4 linked regions of the Homo sapiens genome follow. The protein of the gene in region 1 interacts with the protein of each later gene in a biochemical or structural test. Each region holds a gene or a part of one and is shown on either strand. Other genes may lie near its edges. The genes, in order: SELP, CD24, EZR and AP1M1.

What was found.
Region 2: the proteins of SELP (region 1) and CD24 form a complex in vitro, tested with the Homo sapiens proteins (2 studies listed by BioGRID and IntAct).
Region 3: the proteins of SELP (region 1) and EZR form a complex in vitro, tested with the Homo sapiens proteins (one study listed by BioGRID).
Region 4: the proteins of SELP (region 1) and AP1M1 are reported together in a solved structure, tested with the Homo sapiens proteins (one study listed by BioGRID).

The regions. Positions count from the first base shown.
Region 1 is NC_000001.11:169,620,103-169,627,127, forward strand, and holds part of SELP (P-selectin precursor), read right to left. Parts: intron 1-7,025. UniProt on the Homo sapiens protein: Ca(2+)-dependent receptor for myeloid cells that binds to carbohydrates on neutrophils and monocytes. Mediates the interaction of activated endothelial cells or platelets with leukocytes. The ligand recognized is sialyl-Lewis X.
Region 2 is NC_000006.12:106,971,719-106,978,953, forward strand, and holds the start of CD24 (signal transducer CD24 isoform a preproprotein), read right to left. Parts: upstream 3,012-7,235; 5' UTR 2,929-3,011; coding exon 2,860-2,928; intron 2,322-2,859; exon of another isoform or gene 2,168-2,321; coding exon of another isoform or gene 1,952-2,167; intron 117-1,951; coding exon 1-116.
Region 3 is NC_000006.12:158,781,366-158,788,390, reverse strand, and holds part of EZR (ezrin), read left to right. Parts: intron 1-1,187; coding exon 1,188-1,283; intron 1,284-2,807; coding exon 2,808-3,082; intron 3,083-3,663; coding exon 3,664-3,747; intron 3,748-4,724; coding exon 4,725-4,871; intron 4,872-7,025. UniProt on the Homo sapiens protein: Probably involved in connections of major cytoskeletal structures to the plasma membrane. In epithelial cells, required for the formation of microvilli and membrane ruffles on the apical pole. Along with PLEKHG6, required for normal macropinocytosis.
Region 4 is NC_000019.10:16,207,888-16,214,912, reverse strand, and holds part of AP1M1 (AP-1 complex subunit mu-1), read right to left. Parts: intron 6,895-7,025; coding exon 6,764-6,894; intron 5,884-6,763; coding exon 5,736-5,883; intron 4,554-5,735; coding exon of another isoform or gene 4,518-4,553; intron 1-4,517. UniProt on the Homo sapiens protein: Subunit of clathrin-associated adaptor protein complex 1 that plays a role in protein sorting in the trans-Golgi network (TGN) and endosomes.

The sequences.
Region 1 (7,025 bases):
GAGGTCGAGGCAGGAGAATCGCTTGAACCCGGGAGGCGGAGGTTGCAGTGAGCGGAGATCACACCACTGCACTCTATCCGGGGCGACAGTGCAAGACTCCGTCTCAAAAAAACAACAAAAAATGTTTTTGGGCATCTAAGTTCTAGTGATGCTCATCTTGTCCGACTTCCTCATGTTGCACATGAAAATACTGAAGCTTGGGGCATCTAAATAACACGTTCAGAATGACAGTAGCAGAGCTTGACTTTGAAACAAGAAAGAGCTCTTTCCACTGTACTTTTTTTTTTTTTTTTTTTTAACCTTCATTAACCTCCAGGCTTCTAAATCCCATGCTGCATTGCTGTTTTGGATGATAAAGCATGCGACATGACCAAGCCTAGCTGCTACATCAGTTCCCCTCTAAAGCCACTCAACATTACTATCAACATAAAAACAGTGCATTTGCTATGCATTTGCAGTTTTGTCACTATCCCAGCCAGACTGCTACCTAAAACCTTTCCTGTAAAGAAATCTCAAATTGCCTCAGACCACAATTTGGTCTGTGACAATTTGCTGCGAGGTTATGTGTGTGTTCGTGTGTCATGCCCCAGTGATGGATGATGTAGCGTGCATGGGACGGTGTGCGGTTGTGTGTATGTTCGTGTGTCATGCCCCAGTGATGGATGATGTAGGGTGCATGGGACGGTGTGGGGTTGTGTGTGTGTGTGTGTGTGTGTGTGTGTGTGTATGTGTCATGCCACAGTGATGGATGATGTAGGCTGCATGGGACTGTGTGGAGTTGTGTATGTATGCGTGTGTCATGCCCCAGTGATGGATGATGTAGGGTGCATGGGACAGTGTGGGGTTCTGTGTGTGTGTGTGTGTGTGTGTGTGTGTGTCATGCCACAGTGATGGATAATGTAGGGTGGATGGGACAGTGTGGGGTTCTGTGTGTATGTGTGTGTCATGCCACAGTGACGGATGATGTAGGGTGCATGGGATGGTGTGGAGTTGTGTGTGTGTGTGTGTGTGTGTGTGTCACACCCCAGTGATGAGATGTAGGGTGCATGGGACTGTGTGGGGTTGTGTGTGTGTTCGTGTGTCATGCCCCAGTGATGGATGATGTAGGGTGCATGGGATGGTGTGGAGTTGTGTGTGTGTGTGTTTGTGTCACACCCCAGTGATGGATGATGTAGGGTGCATGGGACTGTGTGGTGTTGTGTGTGTGTTCATGTATCATGTCCTGGTGATGGATGATGTAGGGTGCATGGGACAGTGTGGGATTGTGTGTATGTGTGTGTCACACCCAGTGATGGATGATGTAGGGTGCATGGGACAGTGTGAGGTTGTGTGTGTGTGTGTGTGTGTGTGTGTGTGTGTGTCACGCCCAGTGATGGATTATGTAGGGTGCATGGGACAGTGTGGGGTTGTGTATGTGTCACGCCCAGTAGGGTGCATGGGACAGTGTGGGGTCATGTGTGTGCATGTGTTCATGCACTTTTGACTACAGCCTGACCAGATACCAGGGAGAACTCAACTCAAACCAGTTAATGTGTCCCAGAGAGTAGAGTTATCTCATAAGCCTAGAACTTTTCATCTGGGAGCTTCTGAATCTTGACTTTGGTAAGTAGGCATATTTTGTGTTCTTATAAGCTGCTGATCTCTGCAGGACCTATGATTAAACACTGAGAGTATCATAACGTTATGATTTACAGCTGTTTATTTGCACAAAATGCAGAGTGATCGATAACCCTTTGGTGCGAACCTAACCCCACTGCTTTCTCTGAATTGTGTTGTGTCACAAGCTGTTCTTCCTATCACATTTCAAAATGCACCATTCCAAATGCTGAAGTGGAATTCTTCAAACCAGGATAAGGCTGACTTCCCAAGGGGTTCACAAGCAAAGAGAGTGTTAATTAAATCTGTATTCAGATTCTCAACTTTCACATATATACTTTCTTAAAAACAATCTGCCTAAAATACACCTTTCTCCCACTTTATAAGAGAAAAATTATACCTTTTACTAATTTCTTATTTATTCCAGAGCTTTGCCTTTGGATATAAATACATTCGTATGCCAGAGATGATTCGAAATATTGGTATAGGTATTAAGAATTTGAATATTGTAAATGATATTGCAGCAAATCCGTTTTCAAGTCTAGTGATTTCCATTTATTTCCTTTCATCAGCTTTGAGGGAGCACCCGATTAAGTTGTCAAGTCTGACTAAATTTTGATAGTAAATCACTATATAATTTGGGGCATATAACTTGGAAGGACTTCAAGGAATTGAGACATTGCTATAATAAAACTTCTAATTCCATTTACTTATTCATATGAATGAAGTTTCTCAATGTTTAAATCCTTGAAAATGAAATATGGGAATAATATTGATGCCAAACTTGTCTAATTTTGTTGATAAGTAATATTCATTCATGGATATATGAACAAATGAGGGAAAGCTCCTCCTGTCTTAGAGATGAATCTTTAATAGCAATTTAAATATAAAGGTTTAAGTTACTTGTCAAAACTTGCAGTATATTTACTTTATTTAATTGTGTACTGAAAGTAGTTGTCATGCTAACTCAATAGAAAAGAAAAACATTTTAACACATAGAGACTTACAGTTGTAGAAAATTGAAATTTTATATTTTTATTTTGCAAAGAAGTATAATAATCAAGAAAATACTTTAAGCTTAAAATGTGTAATCTTAGGCTAAATACTGTAGAAGTGGGATAGAAATAACTATTCAAGGAGAGAAAAATGAATAATATAAAATTTCTTAAGAGCCTGCTTGTGGTCTTTTAAGTGATGAGGATTGCAGATCATGCTAGTACTTTATTCCATTGGATAAACTTTAAGAAATTATGTAACAATTTTATTTTTACAGTCTAATTTTTGTAATACACTGGAAAATCCAATCTTCTTTTGCTTTTAAAATTTGGGATAAAAAATTGTAGCTTTCCACTTAGAAAGGTGTAAGAGGTAACATAGTGTTCCAGGATATTTTTGGAGGTATAGGAGCAAAAATATTGCTGCTGAAGAGCACAACTCTGCAGCCTTCATGAAGGGGACCTGAGTGCTTGCCTTTGAACCTGGGCTTTGCTCTATTCAGACAGATTGCAGAAGGAGTGCAACGATTTTAAATTTAGTGGTACTCTTCCTGTGGAAGTGGTTTTCTCCCTGAACAGAGTATTTCTAGGGATTTCCCTGGCTTTGGGGCCAGCTCACAAGAGTGTGTAGGGCGAAGGAGTCGGTGAGGCTCCCAGTCTCCCATCACAGTGGCCAACCCTACCCACTGTTTCCTGCTTTGACTTGTTTGTTTAAACTTTTAAATAAGATTTGGTTTAAACAAAATTTCCAAAAAGAGATGTTTCCCATTTTAACCTGTTTGTTTGTTTGTTTGAACTTTTTTTAAGCAAAATTTCATCAGCAAATTCTCTACCACACAAGATAAAACAAAGTGAGAGAGAGCGAGACAACTTGTTTTAAACATTTGAAGGTTTTAGAGGACTGGTACAGTGCTTTTGATGAAGGCACAACATCTAAGAAAGGAAAATGCAAGTCAGTGTGCATCCCCTGCTTTAATCTGACATACTTTTCTGTTTCTATGCATCACCAAATACCAAGATTCACCTCTTACAGGTTATTTCAGAGCTATAGGAGAACATAAAGGTCACTTCCAAGCCAACTTAGCATTTATCTGCTGTTCTGCAGGAAGTCTTTCAGACTTCGAATGCCTAAGATGGGGCAGCCACCACTCCCCACCACTGAGACTCAGTGAGCGTAAATGATTTGCCCAAGCTTGCTCACATGAATGTGCATAGGGTTAACACAGTTATTCTTATTCTTCCAGGGCTTATGAATTTTGAAAATCTGATAAAAGCCGTGGTCAGATTTCTTCAAAACAAATGCATGCTTGCAGTAGTTTAGAGAATCTCAGATGGTTCATGACCTACTAAGTCTGTCCATGTTTAATGTGGCCCAAGTTCAAGATTCTGTGTTAACTGTAAGGCAACTGATAGGGATTTTGTGTGGAGGTATGGAGAATGGATGATGTTTAAAAATCTTCTTTGAGTAACAGTTTTCCTCTGAAACCTGCTTGGGGTGGGCAGGCCTTCTCATACCTGCTCCTACTCTGCATTATAGTCTGCAGGATGCTGCTCTGTCCTGTGTTACTAAGCAAGTTAAATACTAAAACAAGAGGAAATTCCTCTCTAGAAGCATCCACATGCTCTGCTAGTCTTTAATGTTCTCTGGAAGGCTGGTTCAACTGGAAGTTGCTGGAAAGGAGTCAGAGACTGGGTCATTAGAATAACATCCTGTGCCTGTGTAAGCCTTCATTAAGTACCATGATTATCTTTAATTTTACTTTAATAAAGAACTGGGCTGGTGCAGTGGCTCATGCCTCTAATCCCAGCACTTTGGGAGGCCAAGGTGGGCAGATCACTTGAGGTCAGGAGTTCGAGAACAGCCTGGCAACATGGTAAAACCTCGTCTCTACTAAAAATGCAAAAATTAGCCAGGCATAGTGGCACATGTCTGTAGTCCCAGCTACTTGGGAGGCTGAGGCAGGAGAATCGCTTGAACCCAGAAGGCAGAGGTGGCAGTGAGCCGAGACACTCCAGCCTTGGCAACAGAGTGAGACTCTTTCTCAAAAAACAAAACAAACAAACAAGCAAAAAAACTAATAATGATTGCAGGGTGAAGAGAAAAGCAGAGAGAAAGTGGAAGAAGCAAATGCCTTGACCTAACTTTTCACACAAGGAGGTACCAGAGGCTAGTAGGTGTCCCATGGCTTGCCACGTTCCAGGTGGCTTACAAAGTTGGCAAGAATAGTGCCACAGAAAGGAGATCTTGTTCTTTTTGTCTACATTGTAGACCACAGCTTTGTGCTTTTAGAAAGGCGGAATCAAACAATGTCCCTCCCTTGACCCTTTGTCCTCCTGCCCACATCTGCCTGTTTCTCTCCTTCCTCTTATAGCTAAACTTTCTTAACTTCCTTGCCTCCCCCTTACTCTCCAGCCCACTGCCCGACCATCCTATCAAAGTGTCCCTGCAAACTTCATTGCTGACATCCTCATTACCAAACCAAATGAAGACTTTCCACCCTTATCTTCCTTGACCTTTCTGTAGCAGTAAATACCACTACTTCCTTTTGCCTAAAATGCTTCCCTTAGCTCTTCTGTTGTTCTTCTGCTCTAATGTTTGAGAAACTTTTCTGAGTCTTCTTCTGAATCTACCTCAATCCTCTGCCTTCCCTTGCAGAGGTAAGTGTTTCTCTAGGTTCCCACCTCCATGGCCCTATTCTCTTCTCATTCTTCTGCTTTCCTGGGAAGTAAAGATGACCTCCTTATGGTCATCTGTTTCCAATGTCCTCTAATCAGCATCTCCGTTTCTGAATATTCTCTTGAGCAGGAGGTCCACAATTTAAATGCGCAACAAACATGTGAGCATACAGCTGAGGAAGCTACTGACAGAGGCTTCTCAAGGGCAAGGACTATTACTTACTCAGGTCTGAATCCCCAGCCATGGTAGGGCACATACTCAATACTCAATAAACATTTTATGGATAAATATATGAATGAATAATGGCAGAGGAATAACTGAAAGTAAGACAAAAATATGCTAAATAAGAAAATGTTGGAAAAATACATAATAATTATAACTGAATGCATTACTTTTACAGTAGTGATAATAGCTAAGTGAACAAATAAAATGGTGAAAACAGACATAATTCCAGTCCTCATAGAATGCACATTCTATTGGTAGAGAAGACAATGAAACAAATACTAATAACTACACAACAGTACTAAACAAGTAAACATGAAAAATATTAACAGAATATAGCCATAAGTGCTAGGTAGGAAATGAAACTTATGTGATAGAATGACTGTGTCACTATGTTGGTCAGGAACGTCAGGGAAGACCTCTTTAATGAGATAATGTTTAAGTGGAGAGAAGAATGACTGCAAGAAACCAGCCAGTGAGAAGCAGGAAGAAGAGCATTAAAGGAAGAAGAAAAAGCTATTTCAAAGGCCTTAAGGTGGAAGCAAACTGCAGTGTGTTCAAAGAACATGAAGACATTAGTGTGGCCAGAATGGAATGAGCAATGGAGAGAAAAATACGAGCCGGGGGTAGTGACAGATCACATCGGGCTTTGGGATCCAAAACAAGGGGATGAGATTTTATTCTAAGTGCAATGATAAGCCAACGGAAGCTGGGCACGGTGGCTCACATCTGTAATCCCAACACTTTATGAGGCCAAGGCAGGCAGATCCCTTGAGGTCAGAAGTTCAAGACCAGCCTTGCCAACATGGCGAAACCAACTCCACTAAAAAATACAAAAATTAGCTGGGCATGGTGGCGCATGCCTGTAATCCCAGCTACTCAGAAGGCTGAGACAGGAGAATCGCTTGAACCCAGGAGACAGAGGTTGCAGTGAGCTGAGATGGCACTACTGCACTCCAGCCTGCTGAAGATTGGGAGATCCTAGAGGTTAACTGAAAAGGTAGTTTGAGACCATATCTTGTGGGTCACAAATACCAGTTGGCAGAAGGGATACTTCTGAACAGAGAAGTATCATGAACACATGCACTTAATGGTGGTATGATTTTTTTTGTGGGGCTGGGGGACAGGGTCTTGCTCTGTTGCCCAGGCTGAAGTGCAGTGGCATGATCTGGGTTCACTGAAACCTCCACCTCCTGGCCTCAAGTGATCTTCCCATCTCAGCCTCCTGAGTAACTGGGACTACAGGCATGCATCACCACACCCGGCTAATTTTTTGTAGAGATAAGTTCTCACTATATTGCCCAGGCTGGCCTGGAGCCCCTGGGCTCAAGCAATACTTTTTCTTTGGCCTCCAAAAATGCTGATATTATAGGGGTGAGAGTAGTGCGATACTTTTTTTTTTTTAAATGAGTTACAATCAGGGAGATTGCACTGCAAAAGAAGAGGCTATTGCAATGGTCCCAGTGAGAGTTAAAGAGGGACAGGTTTGGTCTGGCATCAGTGGGAATGCAAATAGGGGAGGTGAATATGAGAGT
Region 2 (7,235 bases), on another chromosome or scaffold:
AGGGCACCACCAGCCGCCTTGGTGGTGGCATTAGTTGGATTTGGGGCCAACCCAGAGTTGGAAGTACTCTGGGAGGAGTTACTTGAAGTTCCAGTTGTTGTTTCACTGGAATAAATCTAAAATACATAAAAAGTTACATGGATACATTTCCACATCACAGCTACCTCCATGTACTCTCATATAAAATTAAAGTAGGTGATATATTCTTAGATTGCTCTCTTACCATTGTTCTCTTACCCAACATCATTAACTTCTGAATTCTTGCTCAACCCACCAAGGTCATTCTCTTTAGTTTCAAAACAAACTACCTAGAGATGCCTCAAAAATGCCAAGTGGCAACAAGAACAAAAAAGTTATTCAATAACTATAACTCCTGTTTTTATTTCTTTGCAAAGGAAAAAAGGACCAGGTTAACTAATTCAGTTTCCAAGATTATATTGACTTAATGGCATTGCAATAAGGTCTATTTTCCCAGAAAGGGGGAGATTTTAAAGTTGCACAAAAAAATGGGGATTTTTAAATATTGTAACTGAGACTTATGGAACTAGAATTCATTGGGTCACTGTCTATCCTGGATTTGCTAGGTAACTTTCACATACTCAATTTAATACAGCCTTGGTAACTTAGCCTTTTCCTTAAGGGGGAAATGCAGTCTTATCTTCTCCCTTGAAATTTGAAATAGTAACTCTTCTAAAAAATGGCCACAATATTTGTGTTAAATTGAAAAAGAAAATGAGTTTTTCCTTTAAGGCAGAATGACTTCAAGAAAACACCATGAAGTCGGAACGATTTCACAAAAGACAACGAGAGGTTATGGTGTTAAGTTTCACCAGCAGCAGCCTCACTGGTCGCCAAGCTCATTGCTGTGGCCAAGAACCAAGGTTCTCCCAGTGTCCCAGCGTCTGAGTGGCATCATTCACCACTGATTTTTCAAGCCACGAAATGCACAGTCCAGTAGGGCACGTGATAATCTCTCCTTTGTCATGGAACAAAGGCAGATCGGAGTTTTCAGCCCTCACTGCAAGGGAGGGTTTACAAGAGCTTCTGATTACAGGCTGGAGGGAGGACGTGGCACCAGGCAAGAGTCTGGGCCCCGTGTACATTTGGCTGCCTATTAATCCAAAGATAAAGCCCTCCTACATCAGCACCAGCTCCTTTTGTTGTAAAATCCATAAGGTCATTAAACAAATATTGACTACAGAAATGTACAAATCCTATCCAAAATAGATTAGTGACAACAACAAAAAAATCTTGATCAAGTCAAATTTATTTATCGGGCACCTACTGTGTGCAAGATTTAGTGTGTCCCATCAGGAAACGGCACTCCCAATAAAGAAAAGCATTAATATGGTAATTTACTTAAAACAGGGTGCCTGTTTTGGACACCTTGTTTGGGATCCCGCAAAGTAACCTGTTCTTTATTCATGCAATGAGTTTTACTGCAGCAGGTGATGTTTTCTTTTTAAAACCTGGTGTATCAATCTGAGGATCTAAAGATCCTCTACACCAACAAAAAAATTATGTTTATTAAACTGACACTAAACAAAATTTTCTCTCCCAAGCTAGATTTATTCGCATTATTAAAACTTCTCACTTACAATGTTGGAGGAAAAAAATCTGGTCGGAGAGAAGATGGGGCGGGGAGTGGAGGGGGCCGGTTTCTCGCAGCCGCGCCCCTCCCCCATCAAAGAATTGAGGAAGGCTCGGGAGCGCAGCGGACTGGGAGGAAGACAATAGGGTACGGTTACCCCGCCAGCGGTGGGGAAGCGCGTTCCACACTCAGGCTGCACTCCCAGGTGAGCCCGGACTTTCGATGTCTGGGGACGGAGGACGCAGCGCGCCCAACTTTGGGGGAGAAGCCCCAGTGACAGTCCTCGATTAACCCCAATCGAAGGCGCTGGAGAGCCGTCACTCCCATCCTCCAAACCCGAACTGACCCAAACAAACGTACCTTCTTCGCCCCCGCCCCCGCTAGGGTCTCCCAGGCCCAGCCCCCGGTCTCTCTCGCCGGCGCGGTGCATCCATACACCCTCGAGGCAGCGCTGCGCGGCCCCGGGTACCCGCACCCGGGGCGAGGTTCCCCGGATGGAGGATCTAGGGAGACCGCGCTGGTAGCGGCGACCCGAACAAAGCCTGGCGGGGACTCGGGACAGAATCGTCCCACCATGCTGCCTCCCCAGAACTAGCCAATCTGGGCTAAAATAACATGGGGATCCTAAGATGACAAGCGATGGACGTGAAAGGTTGCCTCGCAGAGAGCGCAGCGTCAGGAGAGGGTCCCCGCCTCGGCTTCAGCCCGGAACCGGGGTTTGTTTAAAAAGGGCCAGATAGCCGTAGCTTCTCCGGGATACCCAATCCAACTCCGAGGGTGGAGGATGGGCGTGAGCCGCCCTCCCCGAAAGGGACCGTCGCCTCTCTTTGTGTAGAGCGCGGGGAGCGCGAAGACATTCCTAGGGGAAAGCGAGTCCTCAGGGACCCAGGGACAACGTCCCCAGGGAGCCCGAGCTCTCCAGGCGCTAATCCCTGCAGGCACCTCGGGCCTCTGGGTGAAAGTGGGAAGTAGTCACCTGGCTGCCTGGGAAGGGACAGCGTGGAACCTGGGGTGGGGCAGGGTCCTCTCAGCCCGCACGCGGAGCTGCATTGTTCCCAGGGCCGTGGGAGGAGGGGGGGCAGCACGCAAGGGAATGGAAAAATGGGGTCCACATGGCCCTCTCCCCTGGTCAGCTAAGCAAGATTCTCTCCCGGTCCCTGTCCGTGGCCCGAGGCAGGAGCGCAGGACGGTCCCCCGGGACCGGGTCCATCTCCCCTGCCCCCACCCCGGGAACGGCCCTCGAGCCCCGCCGGGCGCCAGGGCCTCACCTGCGTGGGTAGGAGCAGTGCCAGCAGCAGCAGCCCCAGCCCGAGCCTGGCCACCATTGCTCTGCCCATGTCCCCTCCGTCGGTGCGCGGCGCGTCTAGCAGGATGCTGGGTGCTTGGAGAACCGCTGGCTCCGGGCGGGCGCAGGCAAGGTGGGGAGCGCGGCGAGCCGGCGAGACCTTATATACCAGGAAAGCCACAATAGCCGTGACGTGGCGCCGCCCGCCCACCCCGGCTCCCCTCCGCCGCCGCCCGCCGCCTCCCCGCCTTCCCCGCCCCGCTCCGGGTTCCCCAGCGCCCCCGCCGCCGCCGCCACTGCCACCGCCGCTCCGGCCCTCGCGGGCCGGGAGCCCCCCGGGCGGGCGCCGCTGCAGGTGGGCGGGCGCCGCCGGCTGCTGGTACCCGGCTGGTATCCCCGCGCCGGCTGCGGGCTGCGGGCAGGCTGGCACAGGCGCCCAGCGCCTCCGGCACAGGACCCGGGGCACACACGCGAGCCACACACGCCGCGCTGGGGGCCGGGCCCAAGTTTCCTTTGTTTCCCGGGACCTGCCATCTTACCCCCCAAAAGAAAAGTCCGCGCCTCCGCTGCGGCGGGGTAGCCGCCTGTCCTGGAGCAAGTGCATTGCCACTCAGACTGCAAAATGCGCCCCGGGGACCCGAGAGGGGCTGCGAATTCCAGTGCGACCGCGTGGGGGGCGGGCGCCGGGACCCCTCGGGCAGGGTTATCTCTCGGCCCGCCGCAGAGGAAAGGGGAACGCGGCGGGCGTGGCGCGGACGCGGGCCGGACGCTCACCCTGGCCGACGGGACCCGGGCGCCGCCTAGCGCGAACCCTTCCCGGCTGGTCGGCGCTCCTCGCAGGCGGTGTCCGGGTCCGGAGCGATCTGCGCGCTCGGCCCCGCGGCCGCGCCCTCCCCGAAGCCCTTGCTTTGTTCTGTGAGCGCCTCGTGTCAGCCAGGCGCAGTGAGCTCACGGGGGCGTCCCGGGTCCGCATCTTCCCAGGAGCTGGGGAGCCGCTCGCTGGGCGCAGACCCGCTGCCTGACGCTGCAAACTACAGGGTTTCGGTCCCCCGCGCTCCTGCCTGCGGCGGGCGAGGAGGAGACGGCCCACCCTGAGGGGACCCCCTCCGCGGCCCTGAAGCCCCCACCGCCCTCCCCGAGCGGCTCTGCTCCCAGGTTCTACTCGGGGGCAGGAACCTCCCCTCCTGGCGGTCCCACTACAATTCACCGTCCCTCTCGAATTCCTGGGGATACACTTTTTCGGTCTCTGTTGCCCGTCATTCGTTTAAAGAGCAGAACCGTTCGAGATAAAGGCATTTACTTATCCGTAGTTGCCATTAGGCAATTTAATGAACCGGCACAAAGAGGAGATTCGTCATCACTCTTTAGATTTTGGTGGAATACTTTTTTCCTATCCATCTTATTGTGAAAACTTTCAAGCATACAACAAAAGTTGAAGTAATTTTACTGGTGGAGTATTTTGAGTTTAAATTTTAATTGCAAGACTTAATCTTTTTATTGAAGGTTTAGCCCAAGTGTTTTTCAGTCTTTAAAGCAAACAGCAGAGACCAAACCTAGTATGGTTGTAAATTTGTTTAAATTTCAGTTTTGCAGAACACTCTCGTTAGTATTTTTGGTTCAATTTTTAATTGCAAGACTTAATACTTTTATTTAAGGTTTAGCCCAAGCATTTTTCGGTCTTTAAAGTAAACCACAGAGTAGTAAGATTCTAAATTTGTCTAAATTTCACTTTTGCGTGGCAGTCTCATTAAAACAAAGTAAGTTTCAGGGAAGCAAAGTGACAATGAAATCTGCAGTAGGTTTGTTGACTGAATAGTGACTGAATTGGTTTGTGCCTTCAAGGTCAGTCACTTTAGCTCAGTAACTTTCCAAGCACGTTTAAGATGTGCTTGGGAACACAAGAATTTCTGTCGAGCACCAGTGGACTTTCCTGTTTAACAGTGTACCACATTATATAGAAATACTTTGGCCGGGCGTGGTGGCTCACACCTATAATCCCAGCACTTTAGGAGGCTGAGGAGGGCTGATCACCTGAGGTCAGGAGTTCCAGACCAACCTGACCAACATGGTGAAACCTAAAATCTAGTCTCTACTAAAATTTAGTCTCTACTAAAAATCCAAAATTAGCCATGCATGGTTGCTCATACCTGTAATCCCAGCTACTTGGGAGGCTGAGGCAGGAGAATAGCTTGAACCTGAGAGGTGGAGGTTGCAGTGAGCAGAGATCAGGCCATTGCATTCCAGCCTGGGCAACAAGAGCAAAACTCTGTCTCAAAAAAAAAAGAAAAAAGAAATAGTCTGGCCCAGCTTCTCCATTCCTTTTCCGGGTGAAAAAAATGGACTGTTTGTGACTCAGGAGTGCCGGGTTCCAAGGCAAGGAACATACTATGTCCTCCACAAGCTGCTTGTTGAACTAACTGGTGGTATTCCTAGGATAAGACAGCCTCTAAAGACAGACTGCCAGAGTTCAAACCGTGGCTCTGCTAATTTTGCTGGAGACAAAAAGCCTCAGTTCCTTCATCTATAAAATGGAGATAATAACATCATTACTAATTAGTTATTAAAGAGTTATTGTATATATAAGTGTTAGAATACTGCCTGCCTCAGAGTAGTAGCTCTCACTTAATATTTGCTCTTCCACTGAAGGTGCCAGCAACCAGAAGGTAATTACCTTCTCTGCCACTGTGTGATACGTGAAAGAATATCAGTCTCCAAATAATTCCCAAAACTGGCAAGGCACTCAGAATCTGTGCTTTGTGAACCATTTCATCACCAGCTAATGAGACTGGATAATTCACGTAGCAAAGCCCTTCACCTCTGCCCAGGAGTTCCCCCTGGGCATCCTACCGGGGGTGTTGCCCAGGACTTTGACAACTGGAGGCCCAACACAGGTAAGATACTTCTCTTTACAGGTCTCCACCCTACCCTTTTCCTGTACAGCTAGAAACTCAAGAAAACTGCCTGATTTTTCCTTTGCAGTTCTTTTGGCTTGTGATTCTTTCTTCCTATTCTTTATCCACTTCTCCTGGTTTTTCATAGTTTGTTTGCTAATAAAACCTGAGCCACGGCTGGGTGCAGTGGCTCACGCCTATAATCCCAGCACTTTGGGAGGCCGAGGCAGGCAGATCACATGGTCAGGAGATCGAGACCATCCTGGCTAACATGATGAAACCCCGTCTCTACTAAAAATACAAAAAATTACCTGGGCATGGTGGCACACGCCTGTAGTCCCAGCTACTCGGGAGGCTGAGGCAGGAGAATCGCTTGAACCCAGAAGGCGGAGGTTGCAGTGACCCAAGATCGTGCCACTGCACTCCAGCCTGGATGACAGAGCAAGACTCTGTCTCAAAAAAAAAAAAAAAAACCTTAGCCAATAATAACTCACGCCACTAACAAATTGAGACTCTTACCAGTTATCCTGAACTTTTTGTTGAGACACATGGCCAATTTCCATTTTATAGAGAAAGTGTGGTATAGAATGATTTTGAAACAGATTGATTGCATAAATTGATGTATGTGTGGAAAGTTATAACTTTCAGTTTTCATAGCTTTCATGAGATAGTATGAAAAACTCCCTCATTTGATGCTGGTTCTCTTCTGAGAATACTGAGGGAGGAGCAATGCTTACAATTTCTTTTCTTTTTTTTTTTTTTTTGGAGACGAAGTCTTGCTCTTGTTTCCCAGGCTGGAGTGCAATGGCACGATCTCGGCTCACTGCAACCTCTGCCTCCCAGGTTCAAGCGATTCTCCTGCCTCAGCCTCCCAAGTAGCTGGGATTACAGGTGCCTGCCACCATGCCTGGCTAATTTTTATATTTTTTTAGTAGAGACAGGGTTTCACCATGTTGACCAGGCTGGTCTCGAACTCCTGGCCTCAGGTGATCCGCCCGCCTCAGTCTCCCAAAGTGCTGGGATTGCATGCATGAGCCACCGTGCCCGGAAAATGCCTACAATTTCTAAGGGCAGACCTGAGACCAGACTGGCATAGCACATAGTGGATTCTGGGGTCAAATATGGATTTGAATCCTGCACCACCACTTTCTCTTTTTTTTTTTTTTTTTTTGTAGACAGGGCCTCACTCCGTCACTCAGGACGGAGTGCAGTGGCTCATTGCAACCTTCACTTCCCTGGTTCAAGCCATTCTCCTGTCTTAGCCTCCCGAGAGACTATGTCTTGCCTACCCAATATCCACTGCACCTGGCATGCAATCAGTCCTTGCTGGTTGAATGGACTAATATTAAGGAAACAGGTTAATTTGCTTTTTAAGATAAAATAGTAAATCCTGTTTCTAGAGGAACAGAAGACACAGGGGTTAATTATTTGACATTTTTAGCACTTTTGGCAAAATAGGTATGAAATA
Region 3 (7,025 bases), on another chromosome or scaffold:
ACAAGTGTGAGCCACCACGCTCAGCTTGCAGCCTTCCCCCATCCCTTTTGGGTGAGTGGGAAGAGGGGGAAGAACAGGTCAGTCCTGGGCATTTAATAAACAGACTTCTAGAGCTTTAGGGAGCCTCTGGCCTCCCTGCACCCTTCAGATGAAGAAACAGGCCCAGATCAGGAGTTAATTTGGAATTTTAGGATTTACTTTAAGCAAATGCTCTGTATACCTGAGTTGTCATTTCTAATGTATTCAACCCTCTTTGGCATTAAATATGATAGAAGCCATGTATTTGAAGGATGGTAGCATTTTTTAAAGTTTAACATTATATATCATGGGATTTTAAATTAGACATCTATGTATATGTAAATAGTCGAACTTGTCTGGGACTCGGTTTAGATGATGTTCAACAAATGTCCACAGCAAGTTCGACTATCACTGCTTTTCTGTTTACAAGACAGTCGTGAGACTAAGCAGCTCAGGACTCCTGTAATGCACAACAGAGGCTTGAAAATGTGAAATCTTTGCTGTGACCTAGGGTCGGGATTCTACCTTTGCTGTATCAGAATGTCCCATTTCTGGAGGTCTATAAGATGCAGGTTCCTCTGGGCACCCCTGTGCATTGACACCCTTCCGTCCCAGAAGTCTGCCTTGCCTGTTTTCCTGCCTTTCCTAGGATTTCTTTGTCCCTGTTCCTAGTAAGTCAGACCCCTGGGCCAGCTGGCTGAGAGGCAGAGGCAGGCAGCCAGAGGAGGCTCAGGTGTGGCACTGGATGCTTTAGTCTTCTGCATGAGCACACCTGACCGGCAGCGATGCACCCACCGCACTGTTCCCTGGGGGGCTGTGGGCTCCCATGGTTCTGTGTGTGCTGGCCATAACCCGCCCTGCTGAGTTTCATGCAGGAGAGCATCCTGGAGTACAAAGGAGTAGGAGTGAGATTTTCTAAGATTTGAAGGTAGAACCCTGAATCTGCTCAAATTTATATTAAAAATAAGTCGTTCATGGCTTTGAGATAATAGCCTCAGTTAGTAACAAGTTATTTGAGTGCAAAAAAAGATGTTGCCCAGTGGTTGGACTGAGCAGATGTCCTGGTTTCCTGGGGACTCTGCTAGACCATGTGATGAACGACAGCCAAAAGCTGTTGCCCTTTTGAGTGAGTTTCTCATGAGTGTTGAGCCTCTCTCTCTCTCACGCAGGTGGTAAAGACTATCGGCCTCCGGGAAGTGTGGTACTTTGGCCTCCACTATGTGGATAATAAAGGATTTCCTACCTGGCTGAAGCTGGATAAGAAGGCAAGTCAGGATTAACTATTTACAGGCTGTGGATTGGGTGTTGGTCTGCTTCATCGATAAGGAAACTGGAGCAACTCACCCTGTCTTTTGTTTTCTGTTCCTTTTTGTTTGTGTAAAAGTTTTTACAGACAAAAAGGTTGCAGGTTTCCAGTAAATGGAGATATCGATTGGAAATCAGATCTGGCATTTCTCCATAGTGCTCACTCATTGGAGCATATGATGGTTAATTGCATAGCTTTTAGTTGACCTTAGTTTTTTCAATGAGATTGTTAATCTTATAAACTGTGAATCATCCACCATCTTGTAAGAACCTGTTATTGCTTTGTTTGAACCTGTGACAGATTATCTTCCAACTTTAAAGAGTGGATAATTCCATTAACCAACCAAAAAGAAAAGTAGTAAGATAAACATTTTCTTCAAACTCTGAAAATTATCCTTTTTTTTTTTTTTGAAACCCCCACTGTCCTCCCAAGTCACAGCAACAAGTTAAAAAGATGATGGGAGGTGGGGAAGAGTGGAGGAGCAGGAGGAATTCTTAACAGTAAGTTTCGGGGTCCAGGGCCCGATTGGCATGTGGCCCCATTCCAGGTCACTGGGGTCATTTCCAAATTTGAGTTCTCCAGGATTGATAGCATCATCCCATGAGGACTGGGGCTTAGTGAGGCAGTAGCTTTGATTTCCAGCTGAGCACAAGAGTGTGATAGTACTTGTTTGTTTTTTGTTGTTGTTGTTTTGAGATGGAGTCTTGCTCTGTCGCCCAGGCTGGGGTGCAGTGGCACGATCTTGGCTCACTGCAACCTCCACCTCCTGGGTTCAAGTGATTCTCCTGCCTCAGCCTCCCAAGTAGCTGGGACTACAGCTGCATGCCATCATGCCCGGCTAATTTTTTTGTATTTTTAGTAGAGATGGGGTTTCACCATGTTGGTCAGGCTAGTCTCGAACTCCTGACCTCGTGGTCCGCCCACCTCAGCCTCCCAAAGTGCTGGGATTACAGTCGTGAGCCACCATGCCTGGCCTGTTTTTTTGTTTTTGTTTGTTTGTTGTTGTTTTTTAAGAAGAGACAGGGTCTTGCTCTGTCACCCAGGCTGGAGTGCAGTGGCGCCATCATAGCTCACTGCAGTCTCGAACTCCTGAGCTCCAGGGTTCCTCCTGCTCAGCTTCTTGAGTAACTGGGACTATAAGCATGCATCACCATCCCCAGCTAACTTTTTTTTAAAAAATGTTGTAGAGATGGGATCTCTTCTACGTTGCCCAGGCTGGTCTTAAACTCCTGGGCTCAAGTGATCCTCCTGCCTTGGCCTCCCAAAGCACTGGGATTATAGGCATGAGCCACCATGTCTGGCCTGTGGTAGCACTTTTGACTAACCTTTTTTTGTCTGGAGTGCTAAAAAGATGACTTTAAGAATAAATATCTCCTGAAAACTGGCTTGAGGGCCCCATTGAGTCTTGGTTAGAAGCCTGTGTTGGGGACAGTGGGCCTTCGTCTTCCGGATTTGTGTGGAGAGTGTGGCTTGTTTCGTGCAGGTGTCTGCCCAGGAGGTCAGGAAGGAGAATCCCCTCCAGTTCAAGTTCCGGGCCAAGTTCTACCCTGAAGATGTGGCTGAGGAGCTCATCCAGGACATCACCCAGAAACTTTTCTTCCTCCAAGTGAAGGAAGGAATCCTTAGCGATGAGATCTACTGCCCCCCTGAGACTGCCGTGCTCTTGGGGTCCTACGCTGTGCAGGCCAAGTTTGGGGACTACAACAAAGAAGTGCACAAGTCTGGGTACCTCAGCTCTGAGCGGCTGATCCCTCAAAGGTGAGCACAGGATGACCCGGCCTGGGCAGGAGCAGTCATGCCGTCCTCGGCAGGGAGAAGTGATTGCCTTAGAAGCACAGTTTAAAAACACAAGGACTTCGCCAGTGTCAAGTGCTCCTTCATGCTAGTCATTAAGTCACTGACCAGCGACCTGAAACATAGCCAGGGAAGGCGAGCTGCCATTCCTCATGGAAACTAAAGCGTGGCCGTGTCCTGTGGGACATGGCATAGCAAACTTCTCGACCTGACTGCTCAGCTCCTCCTGGGGTATGATAGGTTGCCCCTGTGAAATCTGTTTTTATTTAGTAATGGTCACAAAAATTACCCCATTTGGAAGAAGAGGCCACTTAAAATACCTCTTAGTTTTTCCAGCAGAACTGAGTTCTTGTTCAAAATGCTAAGTCTTCCAGATTAACTGTCATAAATAGAAATGCTGCACATCAGGAAATAGAAACCAAAGCTCTTTGGGATTGATTGATTTGAATGGAAAGTAAGGGTTTGAATGTGGGTGGTAAGTGGGCCTCCTTCCTTGCCTGTCACATTCCTTAAGGATGACAGTGCTGTTTCCTTTTGCATTCCAGAGTGATGGACCAGCACAAACTTACCAGGGACCAGTGGGAGGACCGGATCCAGGTGTGGCATGCGGAACACCGTGGGATGCTCAAGTGAGTGCTGTGCCCTGCTGTTGGGATCTTGCCATCTCCGTGCGCTCCAGCATGTCTTTTCCTGTGACTCTAGTTAGTGCTTTAAAGGGCTCTGTGTCAGGCCTTGTGAAGACCTTGAGGGAACCGAGTTAAAAGTGGGGTTTTCTTAGGGAAGAGGTTTTTTTTAAACAAAGCCAGGTGTCTTGCCTGGGGAAAGAAGCAGTTTAGCTCAAGCCTTCAGGTTCTAAAAGCTTACACCCTCCCTTTGTAGAAAGTGTTGTGTCTAAACTTCATCTTAGTCAGAGGGGCATTGTTCACCTGCAATCAGCATTATTCTGTCAAAGAGATGCTGGTTTGCTCATTATATGAAGGTACTTGTCTTACAAAGTGTATATAAATGAAAAAGGATCCCAAGTGAGAAATGCTGATGTCAGAGAACCTGGACGTGGGGCTGTTAATGTAAGACATGGCCGAGCCACCTGATTCTGGGTGTTCTCGTCCTAGAGCCTTGTCTCTGGCCTAGTCTTGCGAGTCTGCATTATTTCAGCCTCTGAAGTTTGTTTGAGGTTTGAGCCTCAGATTTTGTGCTTCAGGGTTTCCTGTCTGGCCCAAACATCCTTTATGGAAGGAAAACAACTCAAAGCCTATGAGGAGGGTTGTGGGAAGACATGTGTGGGCAAGAGAAAAAGGAGGATTGTGCTGAGTGATAAAACTTAAAAACCTGTTAGAGAAACCAGTGTGAATCAGTTCTTCTTCAAAGTGTGGGGTTTGGTGGTGAGGCTCCAGGGCAGCACGGACCCCACCCCAGGCATAGCTTCTGGGCTGTATGGGTCCCCTCCTCACCGGTCGGCTGCCCGGCCCCTGCCTGCCTGCACGCAGCACACAGCATTGAGCCCATCCTACACAAGGCGCCTTAATTTAAAAATACTGGAAAGGTTTTACTGTTCTAGATATTGAGTGCTACCAGTGACTCTGCCTGTTTCACTCTCCCCAATTAGAGATAATGCTATGTTGGAATACCTGAAGATTGCTCAGGACCTGGAAATGTATGGAATCAACTATTTCGAGATAAAAAACAAGAAAGGAACAGACCTTTGGCTTGGAGTTGATGCCCTTGGACTGAATATTTATGAGAAAGATGATAAGTGAGTTGAAGTTCACAGTTATCTTCAGTAGGTAGGGTGGTGGGCCTGGAAACAATGGCAAAATGGCAAATTTGTGGGTTATTTTTGAAGTATTTATTTAGCAACTTACTATCCCAAAGTAGGAAACTTTTTAAAGGGCTTTTGGACTGCTGTGGCCCTCTCAAAGGGTGGTCCAGAGGTGTGGGTTATCCTCTCTCATGGTGGGCGGGGCCGATAGTGGGCTCAGTCCTGGTAGAGGAAGGCAGAATAGAGCAGAGGCTGCCTCTCCTCCCCGCTGCCTCTGAGATTCCACCCCAGCTGCCTGCAGGTACCAGCACATCCATCCATAGCTACTTCGCAGGCAGCCCAGCCAGTGCTCGACTCCTGGCTCGAGGTTTGTGCTAATCCAACCAAGAATATTGATGGTGTGATGAGAGACTTGAAAAGCTGTAAACAATAGCCTGTACGTGTAGACACTTGAGCTAAATGCTGGGAGTCTGCAGGAGATATCTTAATTGCCTCGCATTAGTTACGTTGTTTGTTGAGTGAGGGCCTGTAAGCAAGCTGGGTAGAGCAGCAGAGCCAGGCCTCTCCACAGGGACAGGCAGTTCCGCTTTCACATACAGGGCATTTGCCTTCTTTCTGCTGAGGATAAACAGGGAAAGTCATCCTAGTTCATGAGGGCAAGTTTCCCATGGTGAGTCTGCGACATCAGCATAATCCTAGATTCTGGATTGATCTGATCAGAAGCTACCTGAATTTAAGAGGCAGAAGGAAACTACCTCTGGAAAGAGAAGGGAGAGGCTCCTGACTGCCTCCTGACTACCGTCTCTGCCCTGATTGTCCACAGTCAGCCTGATTGCTCTGCAGGGCTCCCCGAAACAAATCATCTGATGGCCACCAGGTTCAGGGGCCTGGCAGAGAAGGTGCCAGGGCAAGAATGCTCCTGGGGTCTTTTTGCCAAGCCCTGCCTTTTGGCCTGGGTTCCTGCTTTCCACGTAAAGAGCAGAGTGGCCCAGAGTTCCTGGATGTACCGGTTTCCTTCCCAGCCTCATGCTGTTCCTTGAAATGACAGCTCTCCCCATTTCCCACTTGAGGCTCACCCATCTCATCTGTTCTCAGATATTTTTGTTCTCAGCATCCCCACATCTCAGGTTCCCCCAAAACCCTCTCTGGAGTTCTCAAAGGGAGTGGTGCTGCTTTCCACAAATGACCTGCATGAGTCCATCTCCATTTGCAACCACGCGGATTCCTGCCAGACCCCAGGGCACAGATCTATTTCACTTGGGCAAGTCAGGGACCTGTGCCAGCTGTGCCCAACCTCCTCTCACCTCCGGGGCCCACGTGGTGATACTGCACAGGGAGGGAGGCAGGCGCTGTCACAGGAGCTCCTCAGAGAACCTGGAAATGAGATATTGAGGACTCTCGGTTCGCTCCTACTCCAAGTGTGCTGGATGCAGCATTGGTAAAGAAGCACGGAAAAGCCAGGCACAGCGGCTCACACCTGGAATCCCAGCACTCTGGGAGGCCGAGGCAGGCGAATCCCTTGAGCTCAGGAGTCTTGCCCAGCCTGGGGAACATGGCGAAACCCCGTCTCTACCAAAATTTAAAAAATTAGCTGGCTATGGTGGTGCACGCCTGTGGTCTCAGTCAGGTGGCTGAGGTGGGAGGATCACTTGAGCCTGGGAGGCAGAGGTTGTAGTAAGCCAAGATTGCGCCACTGCACTCTAGCCTGGGTGACAGAGCGAGACCGTGTCTCAAAAAAAATTTTAAAGAAGTGGGGAAAGTGGGTACTTGGAACCAGGACACCATCTTTCCGGGAGACCCTAGAGCTGAAGCCGTGGCTATTAAGACAGCCATGCCAAGGAGCAGTGCACAAAGTCCTCGTGGGAACGTATGTGGGAAACTGCCTCTGCCTTGGAAATCTCTTCAATGACCAGATTTTGTAACGTGGCCAGGCCAGGGCTGTCCAAACAGGTTTTTCAACCTGCAGGAAAACAGCCATGGGCAGGAACTTGCTGATGTCAGCTTGTAACTGCCCCAGCCCACGTAAGTGTCCATTTCTTCCAAGTAAAAACGTGAGCTGTGTGCCCTATTTAGTGCTGTTTTTGCGCTCTGCTCCCCCTCCCCCACCATTGAGCGATGAACGTGGCAACTCTCTCAGATGGTTCTTTC
Region 4 (7,025 bases), on another chromosome or scaffold:
GCCGGGTGTGGTGGTACCTGCCTATAGTCCCAGCCAATTGGTAGGCTGAGGCCAGAGAATAGCTTGTGCCAGGGAGGTAGAGGTTGCAGTGAGCCATGATCATGCCACTGCACTCCAGCCTGAGCAACAGAATGAGACCCTGTCTCAAAAAAAAAGAAGAATAAAAAAGATCCTTTCAGACAAGCAAATGCTGAGGGAATTTGTTTACCAGCAGACCTGCTGTACAAGAGCTCCTGAAAGAAGTACTAAATATGAAAAGAAGGCCGGGTGTGGTGGCTCATGCCTGTAATCCCAGCACTTTGGGAGGCTGAGGCAGGCGAATCACCTGAGGTGTGGAGTTCGACACCAGTCTGGCCAACATGGTGTAACTCCATATCTACTAAAAATACAAAAATTAGCCGGTCATGGTGGTGGGTACCTGTAATCCCAGCTACTCGGGAGGCTAAGGCAGGAGAATTGCTTGAGCCAGGGAGGCAGAGGTTGCAGTGAGCAGAGATCATGCCATTGCACTCCAGCCTGGGTGACAGGGCAAGACTCCATCTCAAAAAAAAAAAAAGGCCGGGTGCAGTGGCTCACGCCTGTAATCCCAGCACTTTGGGAGGCCAAGGCAGGTGGATCACGAGGTCAGGTCAGGAGATCGAGACCATCCTGGCTAACATGGTGAAACTCTGTCTCTACTAAAAATACCAAAAAAAAATTAGCTGGGCATGGTGGCATACGCCTGTAGTCCCAGCTACTCGGGAGGCTGAGGCAGGAGAATCACTTGAACCTGGGAGGCAGAGGTTGCAGTGAGCCAAGATCACGCCATGGCACTCCAGCCTGGGCTACCCAGTGAGACTTTGTCTCAAAAAAAAAAAAAAGAAAAAGGAAAGAAAAGGCCATTACTAGCCACTACAAAAACACATTTAAGTACACAGACAAGTAACACTATAAAGCAACCACACAAACAAGTCAGCATAATAAACAGCTAACAACACAATGACAGGATCAAATACATGCATATCAATACTAACCTTGAATGTAAATGGGCTAAATGCCCCAATTAAAAGGCATAGAGTGGCAAGAGCTGGATAAAGAAATAAGACCAAATGATATGCTCCCTTTAAGACACCATTCTTGGCTGGGTGCAGTGGCTCATGCCTGTAATATCCCAGCACTTTGGGAGGCCGAGGCGAGTGGATCACTTGAGGTCAGGAGTTCGAGACCAGCCTGGCCAACATGGTGAAACCTCGTCTCTACTAAAAATAGAAAACCGCCAGGCGTGGTGGCGCGTGCCTGTAATCCCAACTATTTGGGAGGCTGAGGCAGGAGAATTGCTTGAACCTGGGGGACAGAGGTTGCAGTGAGCCGAGATTGCGCCACTGCACTCCAGCCTGGGCAACACAGCAAGACTCTGTCTCAAAAGAAAAAAAAAAGACCCATCTCAGATGCAATAACACCCACAGACTCAAAATGAAGAAATGGAGAAAAATCTACCAAGCAAATAGAAAACAGACAAAAGCAGAGTTGCAATCTTAATTTCAGACAAAACAGACTTTAAGCCAACAAAGATCAAAAAAAGACAAAGAAGTGCATTGCATAATGGTAAGGTATTCAATTCAACAAGATCTAACTAACCTAAATAAATATGCAGCCAACAGCAGCACTCAGATTCATAAAGCAAGTTCTTAGAGACCTACAAAGAGACTTAGACTCCCACACAATAACAGTGGGAGATTTCAACACCCCACTGACAGTATTAGACAGATCACTGGGGCAGAAAATTATCAAAGATATCCAGGACCTTAACTCAGCACTGGATCAACTGGACCTGATAGATATCTACAGAACTCTCCACCCAAAAACGAGAGAATATATCTCATCTGTACATGGTACATACTCTAAAAACCACCACACAATTGGACATAAAATAATCCTCAGCAGATGCAAAAGAACCAAAAGCATACCAGCCACTCTCTCAGACCACAAATCAATAAAAATAGAATTCAAAACTAAGAAAATCACTCAAACCCATACAATTACATGGAAATTAAACAACCTGCTCCCAAATTACTTTTGGGTAAATAATGAAATTAAGGCAGAAGTCAAGAAATTATTTGAAACAAATAAGAACAAAGATACAACAGACCAGAATCTCTGGGACACGGCTAGGGCAGTGTTAAGAGAAATTTACAGCACTACATGCCCACATCAAAAAGTTAGAAAGATCTCAAATTAACAACCTAACATCACAACTAAAAGAACTCACGAAGCAAAAGCCTCCAACTCCAAAGCTAGCAGAAGACAAGAAATAACCAAAGTCACAGCTGAACTCTAGAAGACTGAGACACAAAAACACCATTCAAAACATCAAGTAAGCCAGGAGCTGGTGTTTTAAAAGAATGAATAAGATAGATAGGCTGCTAGCTAGACTATTAAGAAAAGAGAGAAAACCCAAATAAACACAATTAGAAATGACAAAGGGGATATTACCATTGACCCCACAGAACTACAAATAACCCTTAGAGACTATTATTAACACTTCTATGCACACTAACTAGAAAATCTAGAAGAAATGGATAATCTCCCGGACACATATACCCTTCCAAGATGGAACCAGGGAGAAACTGAATCCCTGAACAGACCAATAATGAGCTCCAAAATTGCATCAGTAATAAATAGCCTAACAACCAAAAAAAACCTGGACCAGACGGACTCACAGCTGAATTCTATCAGACGTACAAAGAAGAGCTGGTACCATTCCTACTGAAATGATTCCAAAAAAACGGAGGAGGAGGGACTCCTCCCCTACTCATTCTATGAGGCCAGCATCATCCTGATACCAAAACCTGGCAGAGATACAACAAAAAAAGAAAACTTCAGGCCAATATCCTTGATGAACATTGATGCAAAAATCCTCAACAAAATACTAGTAAACTGAATCCAGCAGTACATCAAAAAGCTAATCCGCCACAATCAAGAAGGCTTTTATCCCTGGGATGCAAGGTTGGTTCAATACATGCAAATCAATAAACATGATTCATCACATAAATAGAACTAAAGACAGAAACTACATGATCATCTCAATAGGTGCAGAAAAGGCTTTTGATAAAATTCAACATCTCTTCATGTTAAAAACTCTCAACAAACTGGAGTTTTTTGGTTTTGTTTTTTGTTTTTTTTTGAAACAGGGTCTTGCTCTGTCGCCCAGGCTGGAGTGCGGTGGCACAATCTGGACTCACTGCAACCTCTACCTCTGGGGCTCAAGTGATCCTCCCACCTCAGCCACCCGAGTAGCTGGGATTACAGGCGCGCATCACCACGCCCGGCTAATTTTCCTATTTTTAGTAGAGCGGGAGCTACCATGCCCAGCCAACTAACTAGGTTTTGAAGGAACATACCTAAAATAATAAGAGCCATCTATGACAAATCCATAGCCAACATCATACTGAATGGGCAAAAGCTGAAAGCGTTCCCCCTGAAAACTGGCACAAGACAAAGATGCCCTCTCTCACCACTCCTATTCAATATAGTATTGGGGGCTGGGCATGGTGGCCGACGCCTGTAATCCCAACACTTAGGGAGGCCGAGGAAGGCAGATCACCTGAGGTCAGGAGTTCGATACCACCCTGACCAACATAGTGAAACCCTGTCTCGACTAAAAATACAAAAATTAGCCGGGCATGGTGGCATGCGTCTGTAATCCCAGCTACTTGGGAGGCTGAGGCTGGAGAAGCACTTGAAGCCCGGAGGTGGAGGTTGCACTGAGCCAAGCATGCCACTTGTACTACAGCCTGGGCTACAAAGTGAGACTCTGTCGAAAAAAAAAAAACACTGCTAAGAGAATAAAAAGATAAGCTACAGACTGGGGGAAAATACTTGCAAATCACCTATCTGACAGAGGACTTCTATCTGGAACACACAAAGAACTATCAAGGCTCAACTATATGAAAATAACCCAATTTAAAAATGCTAAAAAGATGCACAGAGACATTTCTCCAAAGAGGATATACAGATGACAAAGAAACATGTAAAGCAATGCTCAACATTATTAGCCATTAAGAAAATGGAATAGGCCAGGCGTGGTAGCTCACACCTGTAATCCCAGCACTTTGGGAGGCAGAGGCGGGTGGATCATCTGAGGTCAGGAGTTCGAGACCAGCCTGGCCAACATGGTGAAACCCCGTCTCTAGTAAAAATACAAAAATGAGCCAGGCCTGGTGGTGGGTGCCTGTAATCCCAGCTACTCGGGAGGCTGAGGCAGGAGAATCGCTTAAGCCTGGGAGGCAGAGGTTGCAGTGAATGGAGATAGTGCCATTGCACTCCAGCCTGGGCGACAAGAGCGAGACTGTGTCTCAAAAACAAAAACAAAAACAAAACACAAAACTGTGCTGACATACTACTACATACCTATTAGGATGACAAAAATAAAACTACTGACAAAGGATGTGGGGTCATCACAACCCTCATCTGTTGCTGGCGAGAATGCAAAACAGCAATGGTTTGGCAGTTTCTTATAAAGGTAAACATACACTTACCGTGTGACCCAGCCATCCCACTCCTGGGTATTTACCCTAGAGAGATGAAAACTTATGTCCACACATAAACCTGGACACGACATGTTTCTAGCAACTCTATTGACAATTGCCAAAGATTGGAAAACCACCCAAATGTCCTTCTGTGGTTCAGAACAGAAAATAAATATAAATAAATATAAAAGGGAACAGACTTTTGATATGCAAAACAATTGGATTTGGATGAATCGCAAAGAATTAGAATGAGTTAAAGCAGCCAGACTCGAGAGCTCATGACTGTATGACGCCATTCATACGACAATCTCAGAAAGACAGCTGCGGTGACATATGATGCCACTCGTGTGACAATCACAACACGATGAAGACTCCAGTGATGGAGAACAGTTCAATGGTGGCCAGGAAATGGGGAAGAGGGGAGCATGGAGCTACAAAGGGGCAACATGAGGAGGTTTTGAGGTTCTGTGTCCTGGGTGTGGTGATGGGTACACAAATCTGTACAAGCGCTAAAATTCATTTTCAAAACGTCAACTTTCCTCATAATTAAAAAACCAAAAGAAAAAAATATACAAAACAGTAACACTGAACGCAAAATCAAAACCCAAACAACAACCACCACCAAAAAAACAAGCTGCAGGAGAACCACATCTTATGATCTCAGGTTTATAGAAAAATCAATATACTTGTTTCTGTCTGTCTACAGAATGAGGCCCGAGAGGGTGACGGTGAATAAATCCTAATCTTTCTGATTATAGGAGCCCTTTAGTTTCTTTTTTTTTTTTCTGTGCATGGTGACTGATAAGAGCCCTTCACTTTCTAACCTCATACCCTGCTTCTAATTTTTAAAAATAATGTGCATGTATGGATTCTCAGTCAGCATAAATGCTAATAAAGAAAACAAGCTTTAGCCGAGCGTGGTGGCGGGTGCCTATAATCCCGGCTACACGGGAGGCTGAGGCAGGAGAATCGCCTGAACCTGGGAGGCGGAGGTTGCAGTGAGCCGAGATCGTGTCACCACACTCTAGCCTGGGCGACAGAATGAGATTCCGTCTCAAAAAAAAAAGATAAGACAAACTCACATTTCAATGAGTGGCCCAAACTGAATCCTGCTATCTGTTACCACACAGAACGGCTCTCGGGGCTTTGCCAGTTTTAAAATGCTGTGTTTATTTCTATCGTGGAAGAGATAAAACCCTACAGAAGAAGGAAAGAAAAGAGGCCTACCAAGAGGTTGACAGACTCGATGACGTCCAAGAACACCTCATTCTTCCGATACTTGATGCCTTCGGACCGCCAGGACACCGCGTTGGTGACGGTGGCTGGTGGCCGCGGGGCCCCTGTTTCCAGCTTGTGGCCTTCCTGAGTGATGTACCTGTGGGGCCACACGCTCAGAGTGAAGGAGGTGGTACCCGCACCAACGCCACAGCTTCTGGCCTTGACATTTCGGCAGGGTTGGGTGGGGGGTACAGGGCAGGTTCTGACCGACTTGAAAATAGCCCTTGGATTTCAGCAGCTCCAGAAAAGGCAGCCTCTGGTTCACCTGGGGCTGCTTCATACAGAAAAATCTTCACAATTTCCAAAAGCCAATACACTCAAGTTATAGAGGCTGAAGTGCTCATTTTGGGGGACCAAGAAGACCATGTTGGGAAGGAAAACAAGAAGTGGGTGTGAGCTGCTTCCCGTCCCTGCTGAGCACGTGGATGGAACTGACGCCTCGGAGTGTAACCTGGTGACCCCATCCTGCTGAAGGAGCAGGAGGTGCAGCGGTTAGGAACACAGGCTTCTCTGGGAGTCTGCTTGCTTGTCCCCTGTAAAATGGGGAGACGGTATACGGGGAGGCTGTGAATCGAGTGAATGTGAAGTGCTGGGGCCCGGCCCCCAGGAAGCACTTAATTCACATTGCTTCTTATCTGAAGGGCAGGATTCCAAAGAGGGGAGATTTCGATCACAGTCTCATTTTATGACAGTAAAAACAAGGGAGGTGACTCCTTAGTAGCAAGGTACTGAAGGCATCTGTGTGGATGGAGAGTAAAGATGAGGAGCAGGAAAAGCACGGTTATGTGGGGGCGTAGAGGAGGAAACGAATTAAAACCACTAAGAGCAACTTAGTAAAAACCCGAATACTGCTGGAGGTGGGAGGCAGGTGGGGGACAACATGAACACAAATTTGCCCCTTCTGTTTCCACACCTGATGACGTCGATGTCATGACACCGCCCAGGCCTGGCCCCAGGCCCCACCCCTGCCCACTCACTCCTGCAGGATCTTGCTGTCGGTGGTCTGGGGGTAGCCGAAGTCCATGAGCTCGTCCAGCAGCTCGTAGATGATAACAAAGTTGTCCCGGATGCTCTCCTCCTCCAGCTCCTTGAAGTACTCGGAAAACACCTGTGGCGGTTGGGGAGGGAGGGAGGAATGGGAGGCAGATCATTGAGCGGACGGATGAGGAATGAATGAACGCTTGCACACATTCATTTGCCCGCTAAGTCCTACCAACAGCCTACTTCCCAGGCTCGGTG